4 linked regions of the Homo sapiens genome follow. The protein of the gene in region 4 interacts with the protein of the main gene of each other region in a biochemical or structural test. Each region holds a gene or a part of one and is shown on either strand. Other genes may lie near its edges. The genes, in order: MECP2, IRF1, IRF8 and SPI1.

What was found.
Region 1: the proteins of SPI1 (region 4) and MECP2 form a complex in vitro, tested with the Homo sapiens proteins (2 studies listed by BioGRID).
Region 2: the proteins of SPI1 (region 4) and IRF1 form a complex in vitro, tested with the Homo sapiens proteins (2 studies listed by BioGRID).
Region 3: the proteins of SPI1 (region 4) and IRF8 form a complex in vitro, tested with the Homo sapiens proteins (3 studies listed by BioGRID).

Annotation. Positions count from the first base shown.
Region 1 is NC_000023.11:154,031,707-154,038,894, reverse strand, and holds part of MECP2 (methyl-CpG-binding protein 2), read left to right. Parts: intron 1-2,033; exon of another isoform or gene 2,034-4,971; intron 4,972-6,337; coding exon 6,338-6,688; intron 6,689-7,188. UniProt on the Homo sapiens protein: Chromosomal protein that binds to methylated DNA. It can bind specifically to a single methyl-CpG pair. It is not influenced by sequences flanking the methyl-CpGs.
Region 2 is NC_000005.10:132,487,703-132,495,033, reverse strand, and holds the start of IRF1 (interferon regulatory factor 1), read left to right. Parts: upstream 1-4,260; 5' UTR 4,261-4,489; intron 4,490-5,550; 5' UTR 5,551-5,555; coding exon 5,556-5,642; exon of another isoform or gene 5,643-6,363; intron 6,364-7,008; coding exon 7,009-7,108; intron 7,109-7,331. UniProt on the Homo sapiens protein: Transcriptional regulator which displays a remarkable functional diversity in the regulation of cellular responses.
Region 3 is NC_000016.10:85,895,291-85,902,161, forward strand, and holds the start of IRF8 (interferon regulatory factor 8), read left to right. Parts: upstream 1-3,871; 5' UTR 3,872-3,933; exon of another isoform or gene 3,934-5,956; intron 5,957-6,871. UniProt on the Homo sapiens protein: Transcription factor that specifically binds to the upstream regulatory region of type I interferon (IFN) and IFN-inducible MHC class I genes (the interferon consensus sequence (ICS)). Can both act as a transcriptional activator or repressor.
Region 4 is NC_000011.10:47,354,483-47,361,670, forward strand, and holds the end of SPI1 (transcription factor PU.1), read right to left. Parts: intron 5,559-7,188; coding exon 5,371-5,558; intron 4,525-5,370; coding exon 4,362-4,524; intron 1,065-4,361; coding exon 745-1,064; 3' UTR 378-744; downstream 1-377. UniProt on the Homo sapiens protein: Pioneer transcription factor, which controls hematopoietic cell fate by decompacting stem cell heterochromatin and allowing other transcription factors to enter otherwise inaccessible genomic sites.

The sequences.
Region 1 (7,188 bases), on a different chromosome or scaffold from region 4:
CAGGACGAAGGCAGTTGGTGAACAGACACGTGTGTTTTTGACTCACGGTGATCTCAGACAAGTTCCTCTGTCTAGTCGAACTTCTTTTTTTCCATCTGTAACACTCAGGAGTTGAATAGGTGGTTTTTCTGAGGATACTTCAACTGTAAAATGTATGAACTTGTGAACTAGCTATTTAGTTCTCCTCATAATCAAGATTGTGTGTGTGTGGGGGGTTCTGATTAGAGGGAGGATGAAGAGAGGTGTATGGGGTTTTTTTTGTTTTGTTTTCTGTTTGTTTGTTTGTTTTTGAGATGGAGTCTCACTCTGTCACCCAGGCTGGAGTGCAGTGGCACGATTTCGGTTCACTGCAACCTCTGCCTCCTGGGTTCAAGTGATTCTCCTGCCTCAGCCTCCTGAGTAACTGGGATTACAGGCATGCACCACCATGCCCAGCTAATTTTTGTATTTTTAATAGAGATGGGGTTTTCGCCATGTTGGCCAGGCTGGTCTCGAACTCCTGACCTCAGGTGATCCACCTGCCTCGGCCTCCCAAAGTGCTGGGATTATAGGCATGAGCCACCACACCTGGCAGGTTTCTTTGAAAAAGTTTGTGTTTCGGCAAACACCATAAACCCCCTGGGGGACAGCCTTGGGGAGTCACCTGGCACCCTAGCCCAGCCTCCCTCCCTTGGGTCCTGCAGTGAAGGCTTAGTGAGGGTGTGCAAATGCCCAGGTCACCCTGGGACTGGGCAGGCCCTCTGGGCTAAGGGTAAACTCATTTGGAATACCTGTTTTCTATCATTGTTTTTTATTTGTTAAATTTAAAGGGTACAAGTGCAGTTTTGTTGCGTGGATATATTGTATAGTAGTGAAGTCTGAGCTTTCAGTGTAACCATCACCTGAATAGTGGACATTGTACCCGTTAAGTAATGTCTCATCCCTCACCCCCTCCCACCCTTCCCAGTCTCTCCAGTGTCTGCCATTCCTCACTCTGTCCATGTGCACATGCTATTCAGCTCCTGCTTCTAAGTGAGAACGTACGGTATTTGACTTTCTGTGTCTGAGCTGTGTCACTGAAGACAATGGACTCCAGCTCCATCCACGTTTTTTATCATTTTTACCTGCACTCCACACCCAGCACAATCCAGGCTTCTTTGTGGGTTTTTTGAAATTTGTCTTTAATTATAAAAGTAGCAGCCAGCAAATTAACAAACACCCATGTGCCTTTCATTGCACAGAATTGAAAATCATCATACTATATTTGCTTCAAGTAATTTCCATTAGAAAGAACTAGAATATTACAGTAGAGTTAAAGACCCTTTATTTCCCATCTTCAGTGCTCTTAAAAGTTCATTTAGGGCCAGGCATGGTGGCTCACACCTATAATCCCAGCACTTTGAGAGGCCCAGGTGGGTGGATCACCTGAGGTCAGGAGTTCAAGACCAGCCTGGCCAACATGGCGAAACCCCATCTCTACTAAAAATACAAAAATTAGCTGGGCGTGGTGGTGCGCATCTGTAATCTCAGCTACTCGGGAGGCTGAGGCAGGAGAATCGCTTGAACTCAGGAGGGAGGCAGAGCCTGTATGCAGTAAGCCGAGATTGCGCCACCACACCCCAGCATGGGTGACAGAGCAAGACTCCGTCTCAAAAAAAAAAAAAAAAAAGTTCATTCATTGTACACTTAGAAATAGTTAAAAAGGTAAACTTTGTTTTGTGTGTGTGTGTATATATATATATATATATATATATATATATATATATATATATGTATTTTTTTTTGAGACATATATGTGTCTGGTTTGTTCGCCCAGGCAGGAGTGCAGTGGCATGATCAACGGCTCACTGCAGCCTCAACTTCCTAGGCTCAAGTGATCCTCCTGCCTCAGCCTCCCGAGTAGCTAGGATTACAGGCACACACCACCATGCCCAGCTAATTTTTTTTTTTTTTTTTTTTTTTTGTAGAGACAGGGTTTTGCTATGTTGCCCAGGCTGGTCTCAAACTCCTGAGCTCAAGCGATCCACCTGCCTCACCTCCCAAAGTGCTGGGATTACAAGTGTAAGCCACCACACCTGACCTGTTTTGTATATTTTACCACAATAAAAAGCCTTTAAAACCCCAAGCAGACAGTTCATTTTCATTCAGGCCCAACTCAGAATCTGATCACAGCGGGGTTTCCCCCCTTTCTAGCGAGTAGCTGAAGAACTGTTTTCTCTCCTTGATGGTATAACTGTCTCTGTGGGTGTTGCTCCCCTGCCGCTCCAGTGGTTTTGTTTTTGTTTTTGTTTTTTTGAGACGGAGTCTTGCGATCTCAGCTCACTGCGACCTCTGCCTCCTGGGTTCAGGCGATTCTTCTCCCTCAGCCTTCCATGTAGCTGGGACTTACAGGCACCTGCCACCACGCCCGGCTCATTTTTGTATTTTTAGTAGAGACGGAGTTTCACCATGTTGGCCAGGTTGGGCTCGAACTCCAGACCTCAGGTGATCCACCTGCCTCAGCCTCCCACAGTGCTGGGATTACAGGTGAGAGCCACTGCACCCAGCCGGCCCCTCAGTCTTTTCCTTCTCAATCAGTGGCACCACCATCTTCCCAGGCTTTGGACATGGTCCCTGACTCACCCTTGCCCCTCACCCCCACACTAATCCACCTGCGAGCTCTGTTGCTTCACCACCTAGACCAGCCCCAAATCCTCAACTGCCCCCACCCTGGGCCACACCTGGACCACTGCTAGAGGCCTCTCATGGGCCCTCCCTGTTTTTCTCTTGCACTCCCCGGGCTTTCTGGCACAAGATGCCCCAGAAGCAGAATCACATATCTCTCCTGGGAGCCAATCTAGTGTGTTTACTGCCCCTGGAGTGTTATTGTTGGCCTTAGAATATGTCCCACTACAGGTTTGCAGAGCACTGTAGTCAAAAGTCATTTGAAATAAATCTTTTCTCTGTGGTATATTGTCAATTTGATATAGAATTAAATTTGTTTCTTTTCTTTTTTCTTTTCTTTTTTTTTTTTTTTAAGAGACAGGGTCTTGGCCAGGCGTGGTGTCTCATGCCTGTAATCCCGGCACTTTGGGAAGCCAAGGTGGGTGGATCGCCTGAGGTCAGGAATTCAAGACCAACCTGGCCAGCATGGTGAAACCCCGTCTCTGCTAAAAATACAAAAATTAGCCGGGCGTGATGGCAGGTACCTGTAATCCCAGCTACTCGGGAAGCTGAGGCAGGAGAAGGCTTGAACTCAGGAGTCGGAGGTTGCAGTGAGCCAAGATCACGCCATGGCACTCTAGCAAGACTCTGTCTCAAAAAAAAAAAAAGAGAGAGAGAGAGACAGGGTCTTGCTCTGTCACTCAGGCTGGAGTGCAGTGATGTAGTCATGGCTCACTGCAGCCTCATACTCCTGACCTCAGGTGATCGACCCGCCTCGGCCTCCCAAAGTGCTGGGATCGTAGGCTGAAGCCACCATGCCTGGCCCGAACTCATTTGTTTTTATTTGCATTAAGTGTAATAAGGTTTTGTTACTTTTAGTTTGAATTTTATTTTGGGTAATATAAACATTTACATGATTCAGAAGTCAGAATTACACTGAGGCATGTTCAGCTAGGCCTCACTCCTGTGCCTGTACCCTTACCTTTTTCCCCCTACCCCATGCAGGGAATCAATTTCATTAGTTCCTGGTGTGTCCTTCCTTAATACCCCCCCTTCTTTCTTTGGTAGAATGCAGTAGATATGTTTGCGCTTTGCTCCCTTTGCTTCACAGTGGATCCTGGAAATGACTCCATCGCAGTTCTTAGAGCTCTTGTTTAGTCCCTTTGGATCTGCACAGTACTCCAGTGTGTGGGCGCACCATAAGTTTATTCAGCAAGTGCCCTGGTGATAGGGATCGGGGGTATTGGAAGCCTTTGGCTGGTAAAAATAATGTTGTAGCAAATAACATCATGCATATGTTCTTTGAGATTTCTGGAGGTGTCTCTTTAGCATAGATTTCTAGAAGGCATTCCTTACGTCACGTTTAGGTTTATAGTTTGACCTCATGGTGATTAAGGTATTTGGGAAATGCAAATGAGAGTTTCGAAGAAGCCAGATCTTTCCCATTAGTTCACTGTTTTTCTCTGACATTAGGACCGTCCGGGTTCTAGGGAGCAGCCCTGGCGTTAGGCAGTGCCATGATGGATTGTGTAGAAGTAGCGATTCCCATCTGTCTGCTTTCTTGGCCCACTCTGCTGGTGGCTCCCCTTCCCTCCCTCCTTTATGGGGAGCTGGGGAGCTGCCTAGGGGTCCATTCTCAAAGGCTGATCTCTGGTGGGCAACAGGCCACACCTAGCTTTCCAGGGTTCTTCGTCATTTCCCATTGAGAGCTGTAAGACTCAGAGACATGAAAAGGAAGCTCTGGCTGGGCACGGTGGCTCACGCCTGTAATCCCAGCACTTTGGGAGGCTGAGGCGGGTCGATCACCTGAGGTCAGGAGTTCGAGACCAGCCTGCCCAACATGGTGAAACCCCGTCTCCACTAAACATACAAAAATTAGCCTGGCGTGGTAGCACACGCCTGTGATCCCAGCTACTCCGGAGGCTGAGGCAGGAGAATAACTTGAACCCGGCAGGCGGAGGTTGCGATGAGCCGATATTATGCCATCGGCAACAGAGCGAGACTCCATCTCAAAAAAAAAACAAAAAACAAAACAAGGCGAGCTCTGTGCTGGGACAGATTAGGGACCCCTCTTTACAGCAAGAAAGACTGCTCTGTGGGTTGTAGGATGCCTTTGTGTATGCAGTGGCTCTAGGTGACTCTGGCAGCCACACTCTGGGCCCTAAACTTCTGGAGGAAGATACAGGATAGGGAGGAACTCAGGGGTGAGTCATGGTGGGGACAAGACATTCCCTCACTCTAAGACCTTGTCACTAGATTGGAACATCTCTTGCCTCCCTACACCTGACCTGATGGTTCTGGAGAGATACGTCCTTGCAGCTTCTGAGTCCCAGCACTAAGCAGCCTTTGGTAACTTCCCTACATCATTTGAGTTCTGGTTTCCTAAGGATGCTTGCCAGTGAGTGCCATGGTGCCCTCATTGCACAGTCTGTGCAGTGTAGACAAGAGGGGAAGTCTCTTGGGGTAGACCAGCCGCAAGGCGGTGACTAGCACTGATGTGAACCACATGGGACAGGGGAGTTGTGGGGCTGAGAACACGGAGGGTGGGAGTAGTCATGCTCTTTTCCAGAATGAACTGCTAACGAAGGGACTCGCAGGTGGCTGCTGCTTCTTTCCAAGCTGCCCCTGTTGTTGCAGAGGCTCTGGAGTCCTAGGAGGTTTCACGGTGGCATACTCGACAGAGTACTAGAGCATCATGGCCAGATAGTGATGCTGGGGTGTGGGGCCTCACGGTGGCCATTTCTGACGAGACCCCACCGGGCCAAAGTGATGTGTAGAGAAGGAGCTGCTTCGGTCACCAGAAAAGAACGGGGAAGCCTCCCACACTAGAATAGGTAGGGTGCTCTTCTCCACCGGCAGGAAGGGGATGTATGGCTCTGCCTGGACCACACCTTTTTCCTTGCTCTTCCCTCCGCATCTGCTGTGGCCGAGGCCATTCCTCATCAGGGAACATGTGTTAGAGGCTCACGCCACCTGGGACCACTTGTCTTATCACCCCCAGGACCCTAGGCGGTAGTTTCCTGTGGCCTGAGTTAGCTGATATTTATATAGTGCCATTGTGCCTTTTCTCCTGTGATGCTCACAGTAAGGATGCCTAGATGGGGTTACCTGTTGTCAAGATAAGGAAACTGAAGCACAGAATGCTGAGGTCATTTGCTGGGTTCATGTTTGGAAAGCGGCAAAGGATTTCAGTGCAGGTTGGCTGGCTCCAAACCTGTGTGTGCTTTCCATGACACTGTACTGTGTGCCTCATTGAGCCTCATTCTAGAAAACCAAAAACACACCCAAGGCCCGGCCTTCACAAAGGAGACCCCTCCCCCATTTGGCTCCCTTTCCAGCAGTCGACGGCCTCTTGTCAGCCATCGAGCCCAGAGTCCCTTGAAGTGCGACTCATGCTGGGGTGGTATGCTCAGGAGCCGCAGTGTTTCCGCTCAGAGGAAAGGGCTCTGATTCTCCTGCAGTGCTAGGAGACTTGTGGGTGGCCACAGTGCAGGTCAGGCACACCGGCCAGCACCACCCACAGCCCAAATTCCTAAAGAAATATTTGGGTCCCAGCTTGGCCCGAGTCTCTGTTGTCCTGGGGAAGGACATCAAGATCTGAGTGTATGATGGCCTGGGGCCTTGCATGTGGTGGGGGTCCAAGCCTGCCTCTGCTCACTTGTTCTGCAGACTGGCATGTTCTCTGTGATACTTACATACTTGTTTAACACTTCAGGGAAGAAAAGTCAGAAGACCAGGACCTCCAGGGCCTCAAGGACAAACCCCTCAAGTTTAAAAAGGTGAAGAAAGATAAGAAAGAAGAGAAAGAGGGCAAGCATGAGCCCGTGCAGCCATCAGCCCACCACTCTGCTGAGCCCGCAGAGGCAGGCAAAGCAGAGACATCAGAAGGGTCAGGCTCCGCCCCGGCTGTGCCGGAAGCTTCTGCCTCCCCCAAACAGCGGCGCTCCATCATCCGTGACCGGGGACCCATGTATGATGACCCCACCCTGCCTGAAGGCTGGACACGGAAGCTTAAGCAAAGGAAATCTGGCCGCTCTGCTGGGAAGTATGATGTGTATTTGATCAAGTAAGTAAGAGCAACTCCTATCTCTACAGGGCAGGGAGGGCAGGGACAAGGATCCCTCATGGAGCAGGAAAATGTATGTGCCCAGGGTGGGGTCGGGGGGAACATAAACAATGAACACTGAGACCAGGTGTGCTTGAAATGACCGTGTACAGAGGTCGCTGCCCTGAGTGGGAAGTTCTCAAGGTAGCAGGCCCTCTATCCTCTCCACACCTCAAGTCTTTATCTGGGGATGGAATAGCTGCGGAAGCAGAGGAACTTGCAGAGCTAGGGGTTCAGAGGGGTGAAGAAGCATGTTTCAGTTCTGCCTTTTAAATGATCCCAAAAAGGTTAGCAGTTTTCAAATGACATTTGCAGACAGCCTCATTTAATTCCATGAGAAGGGTGAGCAAAGGATTATCTTGTTGAAACTGATTCCTGGAGAGACTGAGCACCGTACCTGAGTTCAAACTTGGGAATGTTCTAGATGGTGACTCAGGCCCAGGCACCAACCAGCAGAATGG
Region 2 (7,331 bases), on a different chromosome or scaffold from region 4:
AGGAGAATTGCTGAACCCCTGGAGGTAGAGGTTGCAGTGAGCCAAGATCACGTCACTGCACTCCAGCCTGGGTGACAGAGCGAGACTCCGTCTCAAAAAAACAAAACAAAAAAACACCTAGTTTAAACCTCACTGGCACCTGCACCTCAGCTCTCACAAACTCTCATTTCTGAGCACACACTCATCTCTATCAGCAGAGGATTTAACCACAGGTTGCCAAGAAATGTCTGTATCTGAGAGAATTCATAATCTGAGATAGAAGGAACACTAAACTCCAGAGGAAGAGGGGTCACACATCAACTTAACTAGGATTTACTGAGTGCCTACCATGGTAGCCACTCTTCGGGGGAGTGCAAGGATGGCGGCATCACCTTAGTGTGGTCCGTGTGGCCCTGTGCATTGATGTGTGTGTGCATGGTGACATGTTGGGAGCCATGCTTCTGGGCTTCAGGACTAACTGCAGCCCACTTAGGGGGTGAACAGTGTTTTGAGAGCCTGAGGGAGGGGACTGGGGACAAGAATTGTCTGTCAGGGTAGAGGCTCCCACAGGGTGTGTGAATGTGTGTGTGAGATGATCTTGCCTTCAGCATCCTGATTGCAGAAGTCACTTCAAAGGAGCCCCTGCCAGCCAGTTAGCCTCCTCTTGCCAGCACAGAAAAATCCAGGTCCCAATACAGAGAGGCCACACAATGAATTCACCCTCATTGAGTGAGGCTATGGATGAGAGGCATCTGTAAGGAAGACCTTGCACAGTGCAGGGTGCTGGCTACCCTCAGCTAACCCCTAGCTCGCTTCAGCTGCTGGGCATGAGGAACCTGCTTAGATTTCTCACAGAAAACATGGAGAGTTCTTTTTCTCACAGAAAAAATGTAGAGTTTGTTCCCCAGAGTTTGTTCCCACCATGTAGAAAGTGACCAGTGGTGAAAAGGAAACATAGGAAAGTTAAGGACCAAAGGGTCCAAGGAGGGAAAAGAAAGGACTTCTGGTTGGTTGCTTTGCGGGCATTTTGAAGAGATCAGGCATATGCTCTGGGCCTTAAAAAAAGACACAGAGATTGAAGTGGTGGGGTGGGCAAGGGAGAGAGAGATGGAGAGAGGGTGAGTGTTGCCAAGTATCCTGAGGAGACAGGGATGAGGGGACAAACACAGTGTGTTCAGATAATGGAAATACAGTGAAAGGTTCATGCGTTCCTGTTCATACATTTCATTTGACTTATGTCTTACAGTTTGGAAATAATTTTGATAGTCTAATTTTACAATTAGGAGAGATGGAGAGAGATTATCTCTATTTTACAGATGAGAAAACTGAGCCCCAGAGAGGGACAGTAACTTGCTAAGATCACATAGCAAGTGGAAAAAGCACAATAAGAACCCAGGCTTTCAGACTCAAATCCTGTGTTCTCTTTTCATCCCCCTTTAGTTTCATCTTCCCTACTGCCAAGGGTAGGGAAGCTGTCAGGGACAGAAGGTTGGAATGGGACCCCAGGACAAGACTGAGCAGAGATTTGAATGTGGGGCTGAATGTAGGGGAGCTCAGAAGGCTCCTGGGTGGCCCCGAGTGTTAGGGAGATCATCCGAGTTAGGGAGATCATTCCAGTGCAGAGGCACCATCTTCCCCATCTACCTGGGCAAGGCAAGGAGGCCCAAGGGGAGGTTGGGGCAACAATAGTCTGGTCCTGGACTATGAAATCACAACCCGATACAGGGAAGGAAGACCCAGAAGACCAGGTGGGAAAGAAAAGGGCTGGCTCCGAATTAATAAGAGCCTACAGGAGCCTATGTGTTCTGCTGGGGATCACAGAATGTTCTACATCTTAGAATGTGATTCATCAAAAGCCATTACAATAAAAATGTTGGGTACTTAAACATGGCTTAGCTTTATTTCACTGATTTGGAGTATAGCACCCCTAGTCATAATAAGCATATTCTTACAGGCTTCAAAATAAAGTAAGAATCCCTAAGGTTAAAAAAAAAAAAAAGGTCAAAGATGTAAATGTAAATGACAGTTTCATTGGTAAATCCTAACTGGGGAATTTCTCCTAAGCAAAAAATTATTGATATGCACAAAGATTTAGCTAATAGTGTTGTTTGTATTACGAAAAAATGGAAATAACCTAACTGTCCTACAATAGGGGATTAATTGGGTAAATTTTTATTTATCCTTGTGAAAGAATAATGTATACCTATTACAAATGACATTGCATAAGTACATTTCATGACATGGAAAGATGCTCATTATGGCTAAATATACATATGCATATACGGGTATATTTATACCTGTATCTGTGAATTAAAATTAAGTTTTTGTTTTAAAGCATTTTTTATAGTGTCCTGTTGCCTTCACAGGGTCACTGTGGTCAACTTATCAGACCACAAAGATGCAAACTTCCTTTCCCTAATCTCATCCTGAATTTTCCAGTGGATGTGTCAGGTTCTCAGGGGAAGGACAAGCATCTATTTGCTGTACCAAGAAAGGATCCCACGACTCAGGGGTCACTTGTTTTCTCTTATTCTTGCTCAGAAGGTCTTGGTCCCTGTAGCAAGTCCCCACTTCCATTTGTCACTTAAAGTACCCCAAAACCCACCTTTCCATTCCAGAGTGTCATTGCCCTCCACTTTGCTTAACACTCAGTTAGGTTCCTTCCTCAGTTTCTCCTACCTCCTTTCCTCTCCTAGCTCCTGACCCACCTCTATCTGGTAGACAGTTTTGCCCATTCCTGCTGGTATCCTGGGAACCAGGTTTGGCATTGGTCACAGCACTCAGATTGCAATGCGCCAGAATGGGATTAACCCATGCATTTCCTCTACGGGAGGGAGGTAGAGTGACTGGCAAGTCGAATGTTGCATGGGTGTGTCTATTTATAGCCTGCAAAATGGGGTGCTGCCCTGGAGGGAGAGCTGGGGTGAAGGAAATGACACGCCTGGGAGAGTAACTTACTTCTGCAGGAGCTTTAGGGAGATGAAGGAAGAAGCCTCCTGGGCCAGAGTTTTGGATGGAAAATGAACACCCAGTCAAGTCTCTAGGACTATACGTGGGGCGGGGACTAGTTGTGCGCGAGAGTTAAGTAGGGGCCTTACCAAGGAGCATGGGACCTGGGCTCCCCAACCCTTTGGCTAGCCCCATGGCGTTGATCAGCCCTGAGCTAATTCCTCCATGCTGCCCAGAACCTCTCTGGGCCAAGCCCTGGGGACTCAGAGATGACAGCAATGCTTCCATTGCGGAACTCCCATACGCGGGCCACAGGGAGGCTCTGGAGGCGGCCTGAGGCAAGAGTGCTAGGAGGGATCAGAGCTAGCCCACCCCTACCCTCACTCAGCCGTCTGGGCTTCTCTGAACCCCTTCTCCTCCTCTGTTCCCTAAAGCCAGCCAGGGGGAGTCCCAGGGAGGCAGACCGAAAAGGGGTGGGGTGTCATCCTGGTCACTATTAGACCCTGCAACGGCGACCTTGAAAACTACTCAGCGTCTGTTGCCCGAGTGGAGCATAGTGCTTTACAATCTCTTCCCATCACAGCAAACCATCAAGGTAGGGCTACTATTATTTTATGGTTGAAAAACAGAGGTCCTGCGTCCCTTGGGGGCTGTGCCAGCAGCGGCCAAGTTGGGATTTCCCCTGGTCCAGCAGCCCCAGACAGCACACGGGGCAGGGTAGGCTTTCTGCCTTCTTCACTTCCCCAGGGCAGGTGAGTGACCTGGAGGGAGGGGGTCACCCCTAAAAACAGGGGTAGTGCTAGGACTGAAACCCTCCCTTCTTGATATCCCACTGGCAAGCTTGAGGAGCCAGGCTGCCAGTCGGGAGATTCGGCCCAGTGTTCCCACTGGAGAGGGCGGCAAGTGCCCGGGCGATCCCCTCACCTGCGTTCGGGAGATATACCCCCGCCCCCGCCCCGCCAGGAGGGTGAAAAGATGGCCCCAGGAGCCAGCCGGCTGGGACAAGGCGGAGTGAGAGGACAGGCTGGGGCCAGGGGCGCTGGGCTGTCCCGGGCAGCCCTCCTCCGGGCAAGCCGGAGCAGGGGTGGATTGGGAGCGCTCGGGGCGGGCCCGCGGTGGCCCCGGGGCGGTGGCGCCCGGCCGGAGAGGGTGGGGCGGAGCAGCCGCCCTGTACTTCCCCTTCGCCGCTAGCTCTACAACAGCCTGATTTCCCCGAAATGACGGCACGCAGCCGGCCAATGGGCGCCCGCGCGGCTGTCCGGGGGCGGGGCCGGCCAGGGCTGGGGAATCCCGCTAAGTGTTTGGATTGCTCGGTGGCGCCGCTGCCCTGGCAGAGCTCGCCACTCCTTAGTCGAGGCAAGACGTGCGCCCGAGCCCCGCCGAACCGAGGCCACCCGGAGCCGTGCCCAGTCCACGCCGGCCGTGCCCGGCGGCCTTAAGAACCCGGCAACCTCTGCCTTCTTCCCTCTTCCACTCGGAGTCGCGCTCCGCGCGCCCTCACTGCAGCCCCTGCGTCGCCGGGACCCTCGCGCGCGACCGCCGAATCGCTCCTGCAGCAGAGGTGAGTACGCCTTTGAGGCGCGGGGCACCGGCGGCGTCGAATAAAAGGCGCGCGGGGCACCAGGAAGTGGGGGGTCGAAAGCTCCAGGCTGGAGACTCGCCGGCGCGCGGCGTTGCCCGGGCCTCCGCGCGGGCTCCGGGGGGCGCCGGAGGAGCTGCGAGCCGCGGGCCGCGGCGCGGGGAGGGCGGGACGCGGCGTGGACCGCCCACCCGGACGAGGCTGCCGGCGCCCGGCAGCTTTCGCAGATCTGCGTGCGCGCAGCCGCCAGGGGCCTGTAGGTGGCCCGCTATGTTCGTCCCGCGCATCCACACGCCGTGCCGGGGACCGAGTGTCAGCCCACGCGTGGGCGCCCAGTGCTCCCGGCTTTCGGCGGTCCCAGCTCCGCGCCCAGGCGACAGGTTTTGGGCTCCCTGTGCTGGTGGCAAGGGCTGGCTTACTGCCCAGGTGGCTGGAGGGAATCGTGACCTACGGAGACTGCGGGAAGAGGCGCCACAGGTGTTCCTTGGGCCACTTCTCCAGAGGAGGGGAAACCGGGCCGGAAGGGTTAGCGTCCTGGTCTTAGCGTTGTGGGCGCTGTGGCTGTCAGGAAGGCGTAGAATGGATTCAGGGGGGCGGGAGGGGGCTGTTCAGGGTGACGGCTAGCCCTTTGCTAGCTAGTGGTTACAACTCAAGTCAAGGGAATTTCTTCTTGGCATCAAGCAAAAGAAGTCCCTCCCTTCCCAAAGGATTTGAATTTTGAGCGAAAAGTTCTGAAATTAGGGTATCTGTGCATTTTGTCTCTTTTCCTGCATATGAATCCTGAAGCCATCACTTGCATGCCTGTCTCCTCCAGAGACTGGCTGGGAGGGGCTGAAGGAAGGGGCAAAAGCATTTTTGCCTAAGATGCTGAAAAAATTTGGAGAGCAGTTTTATTCCAGCGCAGCTCCCCTCCGCACTGAGTGTAGTACCTAGCAGCTGGCTGAGGTGAGGGGAGGGTAACTAAGTGACCTCGGGTGGGGCAGGTCACTGCCCAGGTACTGTTCAACAGATTCCAGACTGGAGCCTCTGTGTTCTCTTTACAGCCAACATGCCCATCACTCGGATGCGCATGAGACCCTGGCTAGAGATGCAGATTAATTCCAACCAAATCCCGGGGCTCATCTGGATTAATAAAGTGAGTGTAACTCTTTGGGTTTTCCTGCCACTGTTTTAACCCATGTACTTCTGGAGGGACCAAAGCTTCAGATGCAGCTCAAAAAGGGAAGTGATAACGGGACAAGCAGGTGTTTCTCCCAGTGGGTCCTGCATGCAGGGAGTGTGCACGGCCCAGCCTGGGCCTCACTTGCATGACTCCTGCCTTCTTCCCTTCTTGAGGTAGGGCACCCACCTGAAGGCACTTCCAGTTTCCAGCAGCAAGACTTTCCAGCATCTGCAGAGCTGGAGTTCTGCTCTCCTCTAAGCGAGACCCTTACAAACATACACAGCACTCTGCAGGGCTCCAATCGAACAAATAGAAGACTGAGAAGTGGATGCTGCTGGGCAGAAACGTGCCTGGCTTAGCAGAGGACAAACGAGTTAATCTTGCACCAGTCACTCTGGCCCAAGAAGCCTATAGCTGGTGCACTTGGGGCAACATAGACCCTATAGACTTAGTAGCAATGATAGTATTCATAATAATAGCTAATGCTTACTGAACACTCCCTGTGTGCCTGGCACCTGCTAAGTATGTTATTTACATTGTGTCATTTAATCCTCGCAGTAGTCCTGTGGGTTAGATCTTACTAATGTCATCATTTTCAGATAAGTAAACAGAGGCACTGAGAGGTAGATCATAAGATCACACAAAAAGTGATGAAGCCAAGATTTGAACTTGAACGGTCTGACTCAGAAATCTTTACTGTTAACCATAAGTGATATAATAACAGTAAGACCTTAGACTTCATATTTGTCACTGTGTCCCTACACATCCTCTGGTTTTTAATCCTCAAAATTTTGTTGGATATGTTTTCTCATTTCCGAGAAGAGAAAACTGAGGGGCAAAGAGATACAGTGACAATGCCAGGGTTACACAGTGTTCACCATCCAAGTCTAGCCCAGAGCTCCCTCAGTGGTATGACCAGGACCCCCTGTGTAAGAGCCCATGCTCCCAGGTGTCCTGAGGAGTCCTTTCTAATGGAAGAAGTTCTTACTTCCATGTGGGTGCTTACAAGCCAGAGAGAAACATCCCAGAGCTTCAAAACCAGGGCTTTGGGGGAGGGTGCCCTGTGTGGGTCCTAGCACATGTGTAACAGGCAGAGGGAGGTCTTTGTGAGCTAATAATGCTGCAGCTCATCCAAACTAGGTGTCCCTCCTGAGAGATCCAGAGTGGTCTGTTTAAGCCAGCCTCAAGATGGGTGTCCAAGCCAGATGTCAGGGGAAAAAAGGGGAAGTCAGCCTTTTCTCAGACCTGTCTGGCTGGGCAGGCCTGGGTCTCAGACTCAGCCCCAAAGTCTGTGGTCTCTGACCTGACACAGCCTTATGTGTATGTGTGTATTGTTCAGGAGGAGATGATCTTCCAGATCCCATGGAAGCATGCTGCCAAGCATGGCTGGGACATCAACAAGGATGCCTGTTTGTTCCGGAGCTGGGCCATTCACACAGGTGTGTGCCTGGGACTCAGGCCTAGGAAGCCCAGGGTAGAGACAAGAGGAGGCACTCACGTTAACACAGAGGCTCTTCACTGGGGTCCCTGAGCTCCCTGAGACAACATGCAGAATTACTGGGAAGAGGGGCTGGTGGCAGACTTGTGTTTCTGGAGAAGAGAGTCGATCATCTCAGCAAATTCTCAAAGGGAAAAGCCAAGATCTTAGAAAGTGTGTGGCTT
Region 3 (6,871 bases), on a different chromosome or scaffold from region 4:
CCACGAAGGTCCCATCTCCAAATACCATCACGTTGGGGGTTAGGGCTCAACATATGTATTTGGGGGGACATCATCTGGTCCATAGCAGGCACTGTCCGGGTCAGAAGGCCTCCCAGGGATTTGGTCCTGAGGCTGGCTGTGGAAGGTGCCCTTGCTTCATCACCTCTGCACCTGCTCCACTGTAAGAACTGGGCAGACAGATTGGCAGCTTAGGCCAAGCAAGATAGATGGTACGGAGGCTCGACAGGAAGGTTTCTGGAGATCAGGAAGATAGGAATTAAGGAAGGTGAAGAGGAAGAAAAAGGGACTCCATGAAGAGGAGAGGGTCTCTAAAAGCTGGAAACATAAGTGAGGAGGTGAGAACCAGTCTGAAGCACCCACCTGTTAACTGGTGGGGGCAGGAAGGTGTTAGAGGAGCTAGGGAGCTGACCAGACGGGAGGAACCCTTCCCATTCTTCATGGAGGCAGATTATCGCTGGTCTGCAACTGGCATTCTTAGAGTTAGGAATCACTGTGTCCATTTTTCTAGACTTCTCTTATTGGTGATGATTTGACCTTTTCCTCTTGCACTAATGAGCAAGGTGGAGGAAAGAGATCTCTCTCTCTCACACATATACTATCTCACTCAATGCCCACCAATCCTAAGAGGCAGGAACAATTGGGTTACGCCATAGTGAACTGCCCTTCTGTAGGTCAAAATTTAAATGTAGGTGATGTCACAGAGTTTAACCTAGTATTACCATCAATGCCATTATACAGATTAGGAGACTGAGGCTTCGGAAGGTTAAGTCATTTGCTCAAGCTCACACATTTGGTGAGTCAGGGAGCTTGGATGTGAACTGGGGCCTAACTCCCAAACCTGCTGTGGTAGGCTGCCATCCATGGAAACAGGGGTTCCTGCGGGAATGTGTAAGAGATGAGGTTGGTAAGTATGACTTTTAGATGCCAGGAGTTGACCTGTGTGGCTACCAATGGGAAGCCCCTGAAGACAGAAAGGTAGGGTAGCAAAGTAGAATCAACAGGGAAGGGATGAGGAGGCCGGAGGGTAAGTAGGCCACTGCGAGATCAGGACGAAATTTACTGGGATCGTGAGATGCTGGAAGGAAGGATCAGAGAATCTGGGACCATGCTCTGCATCTTTTTGCTGCAATAAATGGTATTGCATGAGATACCATTTATTGCCATGTGTCCTCATTGTAGTCATTTTTGTAATTTATATGACAAGAAAAAATGACAGGGTGATTTTTACATATGTGCATACCTATTTACACACCTTCCAGATCAGGAGTGGTGATCTGAGCTCACTAGATATGCTCAATTAGGTAATAATCAATTCAGGTCATCAAATTGATCACCCAAATCAATTTAGGAAATTGATGACCTCAATTAAGGCAAATATATACAATGAAATATATGCAGCTGTTAGAAAGGGCTAGATCCCATATACTAAAATGGAAAGAAAGCCCTTTGAAACCTAAGAAAACTGTGTTTCCATTATGTGAGTAGAAATCTTGTGTACACAGAAAAATGGTCTTTCTTCTTCCCCTCCCCTCCCCTCCCGTCCTCTGAGACGGAGTCTTGCTCTGTTGCCCAGGCTGGAGTGCGGTGGCGTGATCTCGGCTCACTGCAACTTCCGCCTCCTGGGTTCAAACTATTTTCCTGCCTCCTGAGTAGGTGGGACTACAGGCGTGCGCCACCATGCCCAGCTAAGTTCTTTGTATTTTTAGTAGAGACAGGGGTTTCACCATGTTGGCCAGGCTGGTCTTGGACTCCTGACGTCAGGTGATCTGCCCGCCTCGGCCTCCCAAAATGCTGGGATTACAGGCATGAGCCACCGTGCCCAGCCAGAAAAATGGTCTTTCAATTGGAAATGTAATTCCAGAGAATAAAGAATAGAACCACACTGTAATATGACAAGTAATAACACACACAAGCGCTAAAGGATTTTTTTTTTTTTTTTTTTTTTGCCTCCCGATATCTGAGGGGCAGGCTCCGTGGAGCCTCCAGGCTGAGAGGCTGAGACTGGCAGAGCAGGCTGGGTTCTGGATTCTGATACTCCTGGGCAGGAGTGTCTCAAAGATTGAGACATTATGTTCATTCTTTGGGGCTCCTGTTCTTGGCACTATATCTAGCACATAGTAGTTGCCTCATAAATACCCATTAAATAAGAGCAGAACTAAACACATCTGGTTAGAAATTGTTCCTAGGCAGCAAGGAACCAACACGTGGAAAATATGGGGTTTCTGGAGCAGTGTTAATGCAAGCCAGTTCCTGTAATGTACATAGTGACACCTACTGCCAATGACACGTGCTGGAGCCCTTCCACTGTTGATTTCCTATATTCACTTACCCTTGTCTTTAAGTGGATGTTGGTGGAAACTTGAGGATACATCTTTGTGCAGCAGACAGCATTTGTAAGTAAATCTGTGTAGGCTTAGGGCCACATTGATAAAAATATATGAGAGTAAACATATACAGAAGCTGTTTTAAGAACTTCTGATGTCCTAGATGCTCTGATTTCTGGAAGCTCCATCCCACATCGTAGCAAATATATTAAAACACTCTCATATTCTCTAAATACTCTTAAATAATGTGAGTGTTAAAACAGTAGTTTCATTTGAAATTATTTGATGTTGCGGAACTCACTTTCTAATGACTATGACTTCCCGGCAATCACGGCATTAGGGAATTCATACCAAGTGATGTCTAAGTTATAGTTTCAAAATATAATGAAACATTTATCCATCAATACATTACAATTATGAAATTAACATGTTTTGGGGACCTTCATTTAAACATTTATTAATCTCAGATTTGCAGTATACTTTTTGTATTGTGCAGTCAATAAAATTTTCAGTCTCAAACATTTTCATAGGTCCCTGAAAAGCTCAACGCAAAAAACAGCCCCCATGTGTGATTCTCTACTGGGCAATAAAAGCCAATCGCGACCCTCATTTTCCCCCCATTCCAGGGCTTCCCCAGGATAGAACGCGGAAACGCTTCTTTTTCCGTTTCCAGGGATTTCTTTCTTTTTCCAGTGTCGTTCTCCCTCTCCCCCACTTCATTTTTACAATAAATGTCAGTGCACACCCAGGAGCGGGTGGTCCCACAGGGGACATCTTAACGCCCACCCAGGAGCGGCTGGTCCCACAGAGGACCTCTTAACGCTGACGCTTTCTGGAGAAAAGGATTTGTGATGAAAATTTCCCCAAGGGGACCTTCTAGCGCCTAGCACCTTCGATGCTCCTGTTTCAGTCGCGGTCTCAGCGGGCAGTGGCCTCCTTTGAAGCTGGGATTCTCCTGCCCCTCCCGGGCAGCGCAGGCCACCGGTGACCCGGGACGGTCTGTAAACGACCTTCGCGTCCCCGTCCCCGTGGAATAACGCGCGGCGGGCATCACTGCCCAATATCCAGCGCTCGTGAAGGCGGAGACCGGCGGGGCAGCTAGTTTCTGGCTGTGGATTCTGATTAATGGGCCGCAGGCGCACGGTCTGCACCGTCCGGCTCGTTGCTAGTGGCTCGCTCGGGAGCCGCCGCACTCCCGGGGCTGTCCGCCCGAGCCGGCCTGGAAGGCGGAGGACGCCTCCAGGTCGCTCCGCGGGGCCTCCGGAATTCCTGGGAAAGCCCCCCTGCAGCGCCGCCCCTGGACCCCAGGTGTGAGGAGCGGGGCTCGGCCAGCGGCTCCAGAAGAGGCCCGGACCCCACTGCCGTGGCTGCCGGGGGCGGGAAAGTGATTTCTCGGAAAGCAGAGCACTTCGAAGAAGGCGGGCCGCGCGAGCCAAGCTGACGCTATTGGTCGGTGTGGCCGTCGCTCTGCGCACCGCCCGTCCCCCCCACGACCCTTTTTAAGGCCGCGCGACCGCTGGCGCATCGCCTGGAGCGCGGCAGCAAGCGTGGGAACGCGGGCGGCGAGACGGCGGCAGGACGGCGGCAGGTAGGCACAGTGGGCGGGTAGGGCGCCCGTGTCCCGCGCGGTCCGGTCCCGCGGGGTCCCCGACGCCAGGCGGGGCGTGGGGGTGGAACTACCTACCGTAATGTCCCCGGGCGCAGCTCAGTGGCCACCCGTGTCCCTCTCTGCTTTTTGCCTATTTTCCAGCCACCTAAGTCCAATCTGAATGCCCAAGTCGTTGATTGTCGTTTGCCTGTTTCCAAAGATTGGTAGATAGATGCCTTTTTAAAAATCTCATTTTTCTTTAAATCTGGTTTACATGGAAAACGTTAGGAGAGCTCATATAATGAACGGCAATAGCAACCCCCTATCTTGAAACGCGCTCTATCATCCCACTGAAATTCTACCACGTGGAATAATGCTTGGAGGGTCAGAGTTGTGGAACTGCCCAATAACCAGTCGTTACTGAGGGTTAGTTTGTGAAGGAGGGGACAGACTGCTTCTAAAATTCTGTTTAATGACAGTCAATTAAGATTTCTGAGTCTGGCTTGAGGGCCTTTGCTTCCATCACAGCCCAGTCGTCCTTGGCAAGAGAGTCTGTATATGGGCCACAGCTCACAAAAGCATTGTTTGAAAAAATTTATTGAAAGAACATTGTTTGTAAAATGAGTCCCAATACATAGGACAGACTTTCCTAAGGTGAGATGTGTTACTTACCCAGAGCTGTGAAAGGCTTTACGGATGGAAACTAGAGACTGAATTTTCCAGAATTTTAAGAAGTCTCCCCAACCAATGGCCCCCCACTTTCTTTTTTTAAACCAAAGGTAAGAACTGGTAGTTAAAATGACAGTTCAAAGCTTGTCCTTTTGGGTTACGGCAGCTTCCTCTATGAAAAGATTTGGGAGTGATTCAGTCACTTGAGGAAGGTTGGTGCCAGAGAGAGAAATGGCTTTGGTGCTTTCTGGTCTAGTGATGCGGGTATGCTAGGCCAGAGCGAGTGCCCTGGGCCCTCCGAGGCGGGGGAGAGGGTGGGGTCTGCTGCTGCCAGCTCAGGTGTGACCTGTAATCTGGATTAGGTGGGCCCAGGGCAACCTCTTATCACGTCCCTCCTGGAAAGCCTGACTGCTGTATACATTTCTAGGGCTGCAGATAGGGCTTGGCCAATAGATTACCTCAAAATCAAGAAGAGGAAGTTATAAACATGTGATTAGACTTATTAATTTTTCCTGGCTGGGCATTTGGTGGAATTCGTTTGTTAATGTTTAATAAATCATTATGGATCATAACTGTAGTAGAATCTCAGGCTTTTGATGTTACTTAGAATCTTGGAGGAGACCACGAAGGACACACAGACGTGGCTGCACATGTGCAGAGATCTTGTAACGTAACTATGGCTTTTCTCTGCACCATGTGTGAAATAAGCTGCCGCTGGCGTTGGGGCGCCGGCCTGGGTTCCAACACAGTCCGCTGGCTGCCTCGGTATTTGCCGTGCCTCTCTGGGCCTCAGTTTTTCCTCTCTTAAATAAAGAGGGGACTGGATTAGATGATTTCTAAAGTATTTTCCAGCTTTCAGATGCTATGACTTACTCTTCTCTTTTTCCTTTTAAAATTTCTTTTTCCTGTAAATCACCAAGATAGTTGTCCTGAACAGTTTAGATGTTATGAATCCATTAGGAATCCTGATAAGAAAGTGTTGACCCTCTTTCTAGAAAAATGCGTGTACTAACAAAATTTTGCTTTTGGTTGCAGGAGGCTCAGGAACTGTGGATTCTAGTTTAAGAAACTTGTAGCAAGGAAATCAGGGGAGTTGAAAGTCTCAGAAGCCAACCCCTATGTTGTGTTCTGGCCACCTCTGTGCAGCTCATTCCTCAATCTAGGAGAAATTTTTCTACCTTGCCCCAGGAAAGAGCTGCTAACTTGTTTTCGGGGAGTGTGGGGGGGTCTTTGGTATTGGTGTTCCATTTCTCTTCTCAGGTACCCTCTCCCAAGTCTGTCCCTTCTTTATGATAAACACAGTGGCCTGCTTTAGAATTCTGGGTCTCTTGAGATACAGCCTCTCAACTTACAGGTGAGGAAGCCTCAGGGAGAGGTTCAAGTGACGTCACAAGGTCTGGTTAGAGAAAAGCCTTTGCCAGAGTTCAGAGTTTTCAAACCAAGGTCTAATTTGGGTGGGCGCAGTGGCTCACACCTGTAATCACAGCACTTTAGGAGGCTGATGTGGGAGGATCACTTGAGGCCGAGAGTTCAAGACCAGACTGGGCAACATAGCGAGATCCTGTCTCTAAAATGTATATCTGGGTGTGGTGGCATATGTCTGTAGTTCCAGGTACTCAAGGGGCTGAGGCAGGAAGATCGCTTAAGCCCAGGAGTTCCAGGCTGCCGCGAGCTATGATGGCACCACTGCACTCCTGCCTGGGTGACAGAGCAAGACCCTGTCTCTAAAGAAAAAAAAATTGAACTCATCCCCTTTTAAATCCATAAACGCACAACTGAGGTTGTTGGATGGGGAATTTAAGAAATCCCACCTCCTCCTCCCTGGGACCTGGCCCTGTTTCCCGTCTCATGGCCACCTGCAGGGTGGCTGAAGTTTCCAGAATGCGTACTTCTTGTGAAGGTTCTGATTGATATTTTGCTTTCTGGACCAGTGTGGCTCTACCATATTTTGGGATGTTATGTCTTGTTACTGCTGATTGTTTCAAACTCGTTTGCCCAAAGAGGTCACATTTTAATCAGAAGAACAAAAATGCTATTTTTTTTTTTTTTTGGGTGGGCGTCTATCCAGCTGTCTTGGGGATTTCCAGCACTGTTCTTGGAAATGTTGGCTCTAAGTCGATAGGTCATGCTAGTTCTCTCTCTCTTTCTCTGTGCTGTTGGGGAAGCTGTCTGCTTGGGTGAGAGTGTTCTTCCAAAGGATGTCTTTGGGTGCCCTGGGATGGTTAGGTCCCTAGAGTGGGACATGTTCTGGAAGAGGAGCCCAGTGAAC
Region 4 (7,188 bases):
ACTCCACATCTCAAGGTTGGCAGATACTAATTGACCAGAATATCAAATGTTGTTGCTGGTCATGGTCATCATCATCATCATCATCATCATCATGAGTTCAAACCTCATCAAGGCTTAAAAACAACAACTATCAGGAGTAGAGAGCTTTTAAATAGGATCTGCTCTCCTAATCACAATTGAGGACTTGTTCTTTCCACCAAACTCTAACTCCTGTTCAGGCGCTCTGTGTCATTGGTCCTCATGTTCCCAGGGTCCAGCATTGGGTACAGTCCTCGGTAAACACCCGATGGACAAATGACAAAAAGAGACGTCGCAGCACACAGGGGCCAAAAGAGATACACAACAAATTTTAAAAGAGACTCTGTGCTGCAAGAGGATGGATTGAGAATAACTTTACTTGTTTTTTGGGAGGAGGTTAATGGGTGGGAGGGGTGAGAGGGGAGATCTGATTTACATACGGACTTGAGACTCCCAAGGCAGTACCCCGGGTCGTCCTCTGCAAGGTTGCCCCGGTGGGGTCTGACGCCCAGCTGGCGTCCGGGAGCCGGGGTGGAGTCCTGGAGGGAGGCGAAGCGGGATGTGGAGGGGGCCTGGAGTGGGGGGAGGGGGCGGGTGAGGCGAGGCCCGGCCCGCCACAGTCCTGCCTCTGGGCCCCGGGAGCGTCCTCCCTGTGTCCGGGCCGGGCGAGGGCTTAATGCTATGGCCAGCGGGGAGGCCTGGCGGGGCCCGGCGGGGGCTGCGGGCTCAGTGGGGCGGGTGGCGCCGCTCGGCCAGGCCCCCGCGGCCCAGCACTTCGCCGCTGAACTGGTAGGTGAGCTTCTTCTTCACCTTCTTGACCTCGCCCGTCTTGCCGTAGTTGCGCAGCGCGCGCGCCATCTTCTGGTAGGTCATCTTCTTGCGGTTGCCCTTCTGGATGCCCCAGCGGTGCGCCAGCGCCTCCTTGTGCTTGGACGAGAACTGGAAGGTGCCCTTGTCCTTGTCCACCCACCAGATGCTGTCCTTCATGTCGCCGCTGCGGAGCAGGTCCAACAGGAACTGGTACAGGCGGATCTTCTTCTTGCTGCCTGCGGGGGGGAGGGCCCGGTGGGAGGGGGCCCGGGGCCCACATGGGAGCCGCCCCCACCGCCTTGCGTACGCACAGGGGCCCGGGGACGGGGTGGCCGGGAAGGGCAGGGGAACGGCTGCCCCAGCCCGCGCCGGGCGTGCATACACAACGCACCCACACTCACACACACACACATGCTTGCGCACACACAGGCGTTCACACACACCCACTCACACCCACGCACTCACCCCCCCCACGCGCACACACTCGCACCCACACAGTGCACCAAGTACACACACATGCTCACATCCACATAACGCACCCACACCTCCTTACACATGCTCACACATCACGCCCACACCCACTCACACACGTGCTCACACAACGCACCTTCTCACACCCACTCACACTCATGCTTAAACACAATGCAACCACTCACTCATGCTCACACCCACACACGCTCACACGTACAATGTATCTGATCACACACATGCTGTCACACACATGCACACACAATGCACGTGCTCACAGACTCACACCCACATGCTCACACACATGCTTGTGCAATGCACCCAAACGCCAGATTGCACCCACACCCACCCACTTGCACATTCACACCCACATCTGCCCTCACACACTGTCACTTTCTCACACACCCACACAATGCACCAGCTCACACTCACACACATGCTCACACACTCATTCACTAACATGCCCCCACACACTGGCACCCACACGACACACCCACTCACATGCTTGCACCCACCCACATGTTCAAACCCACACTGCATCTGCTTACACATTCACAACCCACTCACACACACCTGGTCACACCCACTCATGCTCACACCTCATTCACACCCACTCACATGCACACTCACACCCACCCAATGCACCCACTCACACACATGCACACACACTCAGACCCACTTACTGCCCCCACACACGGTCACACCCAATGCACCTTCTCACACTCATATGCCCACTCACACCTGCTCACACACACCTCACACCAGGTTCACACACTCATGTTCACACACCTGCTCATACACCTCACACCAGGTCTCATAATCACACCTGCTTATACTTGCTTACACATGCTTGCACAAACACACCTGCTTACACATCTTACACTGCTCACCCTCACACCTTACATTGCTCACCCTTGCACACACATGCCCCTGCTCACACACACATGCTTACACCACACCATTCACTCACACATATCCACTCACATATGATCGCACCTACCCACACCTCACACACACTTGCACGCACACACCTGCTTACACACATCTCACGTTACTCAGCCCCACACGCACACACCTGCTCACACACATCTCACATTACTCAGCTACACACACACGCCCCTGCTCACACACTTGTGCTCACACACCTCACACCATTCACTCACGCACACACCCACTCACACATGCTCACGTCTGCTCACACACATGCTCACCTATCCATACACACACTTCCTCACACACCTCACACCAAGTCTCACACACACTTATGCTTACAAACTCATGCTCACACACATGCTAACACTTCACACATGCTAACACCTCACACATTCACACCCACTCACATGCTCACACCTCACACATGCTCACACCTCATACCTCACACACATGCTCACATCTCACACCCACTCACACACACCTGCCCACACATATCTGCACACACACATGCTCACACATATGCTCACACATCACACATACCTGCTCACATACATGCTCACACCTCACAGCTGCTCACTTATCACTCACACGCTCACACCAGCTCTTTCACACCTCATTGACACCTGCTCACTCATATTTCACACCACTTACACTTGCACCTCACACCTGCTCACGCATGCACATACATTCTGCTCATGCATATCCACTTGCATGCTTACACGCCTGTTCACACACAACCACTCAGACACCTACTTGCACACTCAAATGCTCACACACATTCTGCTCTCACATCCACTCACAGCAGCTCACACTCATGCATGCTCACACACACCTGCTCTCACACTCACACATCACACCCATTCTCTTGTTTTTGAGATGGAGTTGCTCTTGTTGCCCAGGCTGGAGTGCAATGGCACGATCTCGGCTCACTGCAACCTCCACCTCCCGGGTTCAAGCAATTCTCCTGTCTCAGCCTTCCAAGTAGCTGGGATTACAGGCGTTCACCACCACGCCTGACTAATTTTTGTATTTTTAGTGGAGACGGGGTTTCGCCATGTTGGCCAGGCTGGTCTCGAACACCTGACCTCAGGTGATCCGCCTGCCTCAGCCTCCCAAAGTGCTGGGATACAGGCGTGAGCCACCACGCCCGGCCCACTCACACCCATTCATGCTCACACACTCATTCACACACCTGCTTTCACACATACACATACCTGTTCACACACATGCACACCTGCTCACACACGCAGGTGCTTAAGCACGTCCTCACCCCCCACACACACCTGCTCACACATGGGAACACACACATGCTTACACATGTTAAAACACATATCCACTCACATACATGCACAGACCTGCTCACATATACACATACATGCTCACACACCCCAGCTCACACCTTCCTGCTCACACACACCTGCTTACATACACCCTCAAACATGTTCACACCCACTCACACATCCACTGACACACACCTATGCCCATTCACACACACTTATATCACACACATCCCTGCTTACATACACATTCACACATATACACTTGCTCACACACCTGCTGTCACACCCCCACTCACACATATCACTCACACATGCCTGCTTACAGCCACTCACATATACCATGCTCACATCCCTGCTCACACAGGCACACCCACACACTGCTGACACCCACTGACATCATACGTGCACAGCTGCTCACACGCACTGAAATACATTCATGTGTTGACAGACACACAAACATGGCCACACCCACTCTCAGCCACACCAGCTCTCACATTCACCTTCTCACACACCCACTCACACAGCCACTCGCACACATGCACCTGCCCGTACCTGTGCACACGCACCCTCTGCACACTTGCTCACACACACCCAGATGTACACACACTCATGGCACAGAGAGACACACACACCTGGCACACTTCATGGAGATGCCCGTATGCACTACACAGCAGATACACACACACAGAGACAGCCACAGACAGCCCCACAAAACACACACACTGGCAAACATGCACACACACACACACGCGACTCGGTGGCGTGGCTGCTGGGTCAGTTGGCCTGGCTGGGTGGGGGCAGGGCACAGACACGGCCAGGGTCGGGGCCAGGGTGGAGGGCCAGGTGCCCCACCTGTCTCCCCAGGCAGGAGCCCAGGCCCGGGCTCCAGGCCATCCGCCTCGCCGTCAGACACCTCCAGTGGGGGGCTCTGCCGCTCGCCCTCCTCCTCATCTGAGCTGGGCTGGGCTGGGGACAGGGATGGGTACTGGAGGCACATCCGGGGCAGGTAGGAGACCTGGACGGTGGGGGAAGGAGATCAGAGTCAGGAAGGGCCAGCTTACAGCTCAGGGGGGCTGGGAGGGAGGTCAGCTGGGGAGAGAAGGAGTGCAGAGGGCAGGGGACAATGGCAGGCACAGGAGACTGGAGGAAGAAGACCAGGGAAAAGGGGGGCCAGTTGAGGTGCTGCACATAGGGTGCAGGCTGTGGGGCGAGGGGTGCTGACATCCAGCCCACCCAGCCCTCCCAGCTGGGCCTCCTGGTTTAGGACTGTGGGCACCGGGGAAGTGGTGCCTTGTTCTCCTCCCTGCAGCGGTGCTGTGTGGACCCGCATTAGGCTGGGGTCAGAAGAGGGCATGCTAGGGACCGGTGCGTTGGGTCTGGAAGGGGGTTTCATAGGTGGGATGATGAGTGAGTGGAGGGACCCTGGAGGTCAGTAGGGGTGGTAGAGGTCAGCAGAGGTCACTGATCCGGGTTAGGGTCAGTAGGGAGGGTCACTGGGGAGAGGCAGGGTCAGTAGAGGTGTTCAGTGACTTGGTGTGGGATCCATGAGGGCTAGTGAATGGGGGTGGCAGACAGTGAGGCCCAGGAGGGCCCACAACAAGGCGTTGGGATGGGGAGGCTTGGTGAGGGTGCGAGAATTATCTGGGGTCTGTCCATACTCGGGGTGAGATGAGATAAGGGGTGTGGGGTCATGAGGTCACTTGGGGGGTCAGGCGGCAGCCGTTGGAGCTCCAGCCGCCGTTGGCACTGTGGGGCAGGAAGCTGAGTTGGGTAAGAGCCTGTGTCAGCTTCCTGTGAAGCTCCCGGGCCCCACCACAGGCCTGGCAGTCTCCTGGGGGACGGGGCAGGCGGTGGCATGCACCTGGTGGCCAAGACTGGGATGGGGTGGCACCATGGGGGTATCGAGGACGTGCATCTGCTCCAGCTCCATGTGGCGGTAGAGCTGCTGCAGCTGCGGGGGCTGCACGCTCTGGAGCTCCGTGAAGTTGTTCTCGGCGAAGCTCTCGAACTCGCTGTGCACGTGGTGGGGGTGGAAGTCCCAGTAATGGTCTGTGGGGGACAGCCAGGCAGTATGGGGTGAGCTCAGGGTTGGGCAGGGCAGGAAAAGGTTATAGTAACATTAAATAATACTGCCAGGCCATATGGGGCCTAACCATCTCGTTTAACCCTCGCCACCTGCATGGTTACTCTAGGCCTGCATTTTATAGATGAGGACACTGAGGCTTCGAGCGGCTACATAGCATGCCCAAGGTCAAAAGCATCCGGGTCACAGCCAGGACTCAGGGCTGAAGCAAAGCTCGTGTTCTCAGCAATTCCATCCTGATTCCTGTGCAGTCACACAGACCGAGCGTCTAATCCTGGCTCTGCCATTTACTTGCTGTGTGACCTCAGGCACATATGTGGCCTCTCTAACCTCAGTTGAGTTGCCTGTAAAATGGGGATCACAGTTATTGGGAAGATACGAATGAGTACACATTTGTAAAACACCTCGCACCAGAGCCGGCCCTCAGGGAAAGTTGATTCCCCTCCTATCCTGTTAAAACCTCCCAGCCAGGGCCGCGCGCGGTGGCTCACGCCTGTAAACCCAGCATTTTGGGAGGCGGAGGCGGGCGGATCATGAGGTCAGGAGATTGAGACCATCCTGGCCAACGTGGTGAAATCCCATCTCTACTAAAATACAAAATATTAGCTGGGCGTGGTGGTAGGTGCCGTAATCCCAGCTACTCAGGAGGCTGAGGCAGGAGAATCGCTTGAACCCGAGAGGTGGAGGTAGCAGTGAGCCGAGATTGCGCCACTGCACTCCAGCCTGGCGACAGAGTGAGACTCTGCCTCAAAAAAAAAAAAACTCGGCCGGGCGCAGTGGCTCACGCCTGTAATCCCAGCACTTTGGGAGGCCGAGGTGGGTGGATAACGAGGTCAGGAGATCAAGACCATCCTGGCTAACACAGTGAAACCCCGTCTCTAGTAAAATACAAAAAAATTAGCTGGGCGTGGTGGCGGGTGCCTGTAGTCCCAGCTACTCAGGAGGCTGAGGCAGGAGAATGGTGTGAACCCAGGAGGCGGAGGCTGCAGTGAGCCGAGATTGCGCCACTGCACTCCAGCCTGGGCGACGGAGCGAGACTCCGTCTCAAAAAGAAAAAAAAAGAAAAAAGAAAAGAAAAAAACCTCCCACGGGTTCCTGAGCTCCCTGGCTGCCCACAGTCTCTCTCTCTGTCTCACACACACACACTCACACAGCCTTGTCACATGGCCAAGGTGTGACAGCAGAGTCACAGGGCTGACATTCCTCACACACTAGAACTTGTCCAGGCACACGGTGGCCCTTCCTCTTCAAAGCCATGACCTTAAGCAGTGGCACCTGTGTTCCCGTGAGGTTCCTGGGACCTGAGACTTTCCTGGAAAACCCCCTGTGGGTTCCTTGAGTCTGTGGTGGAGGAGACTGAAGTCCGGGGAATAACCCCATGCCACCAAAAGCCCTGTCTTGGAACTGGGGAAGATCTTCAGCATGAACACCTTTTCCAGGAACAAAAACTGCCACACATCTGCGGGACTTCCTGGGCGCAATTCGGGGTCCAAAATGAAGCGTGGTAATAAAGTGACAAGATCGGCTGTCTCATGTGGGCCAAAGAGGGCGCCTACGAGACTCCAGGTCCAGGCAGTGTCTCTGGGACAAGTCCAC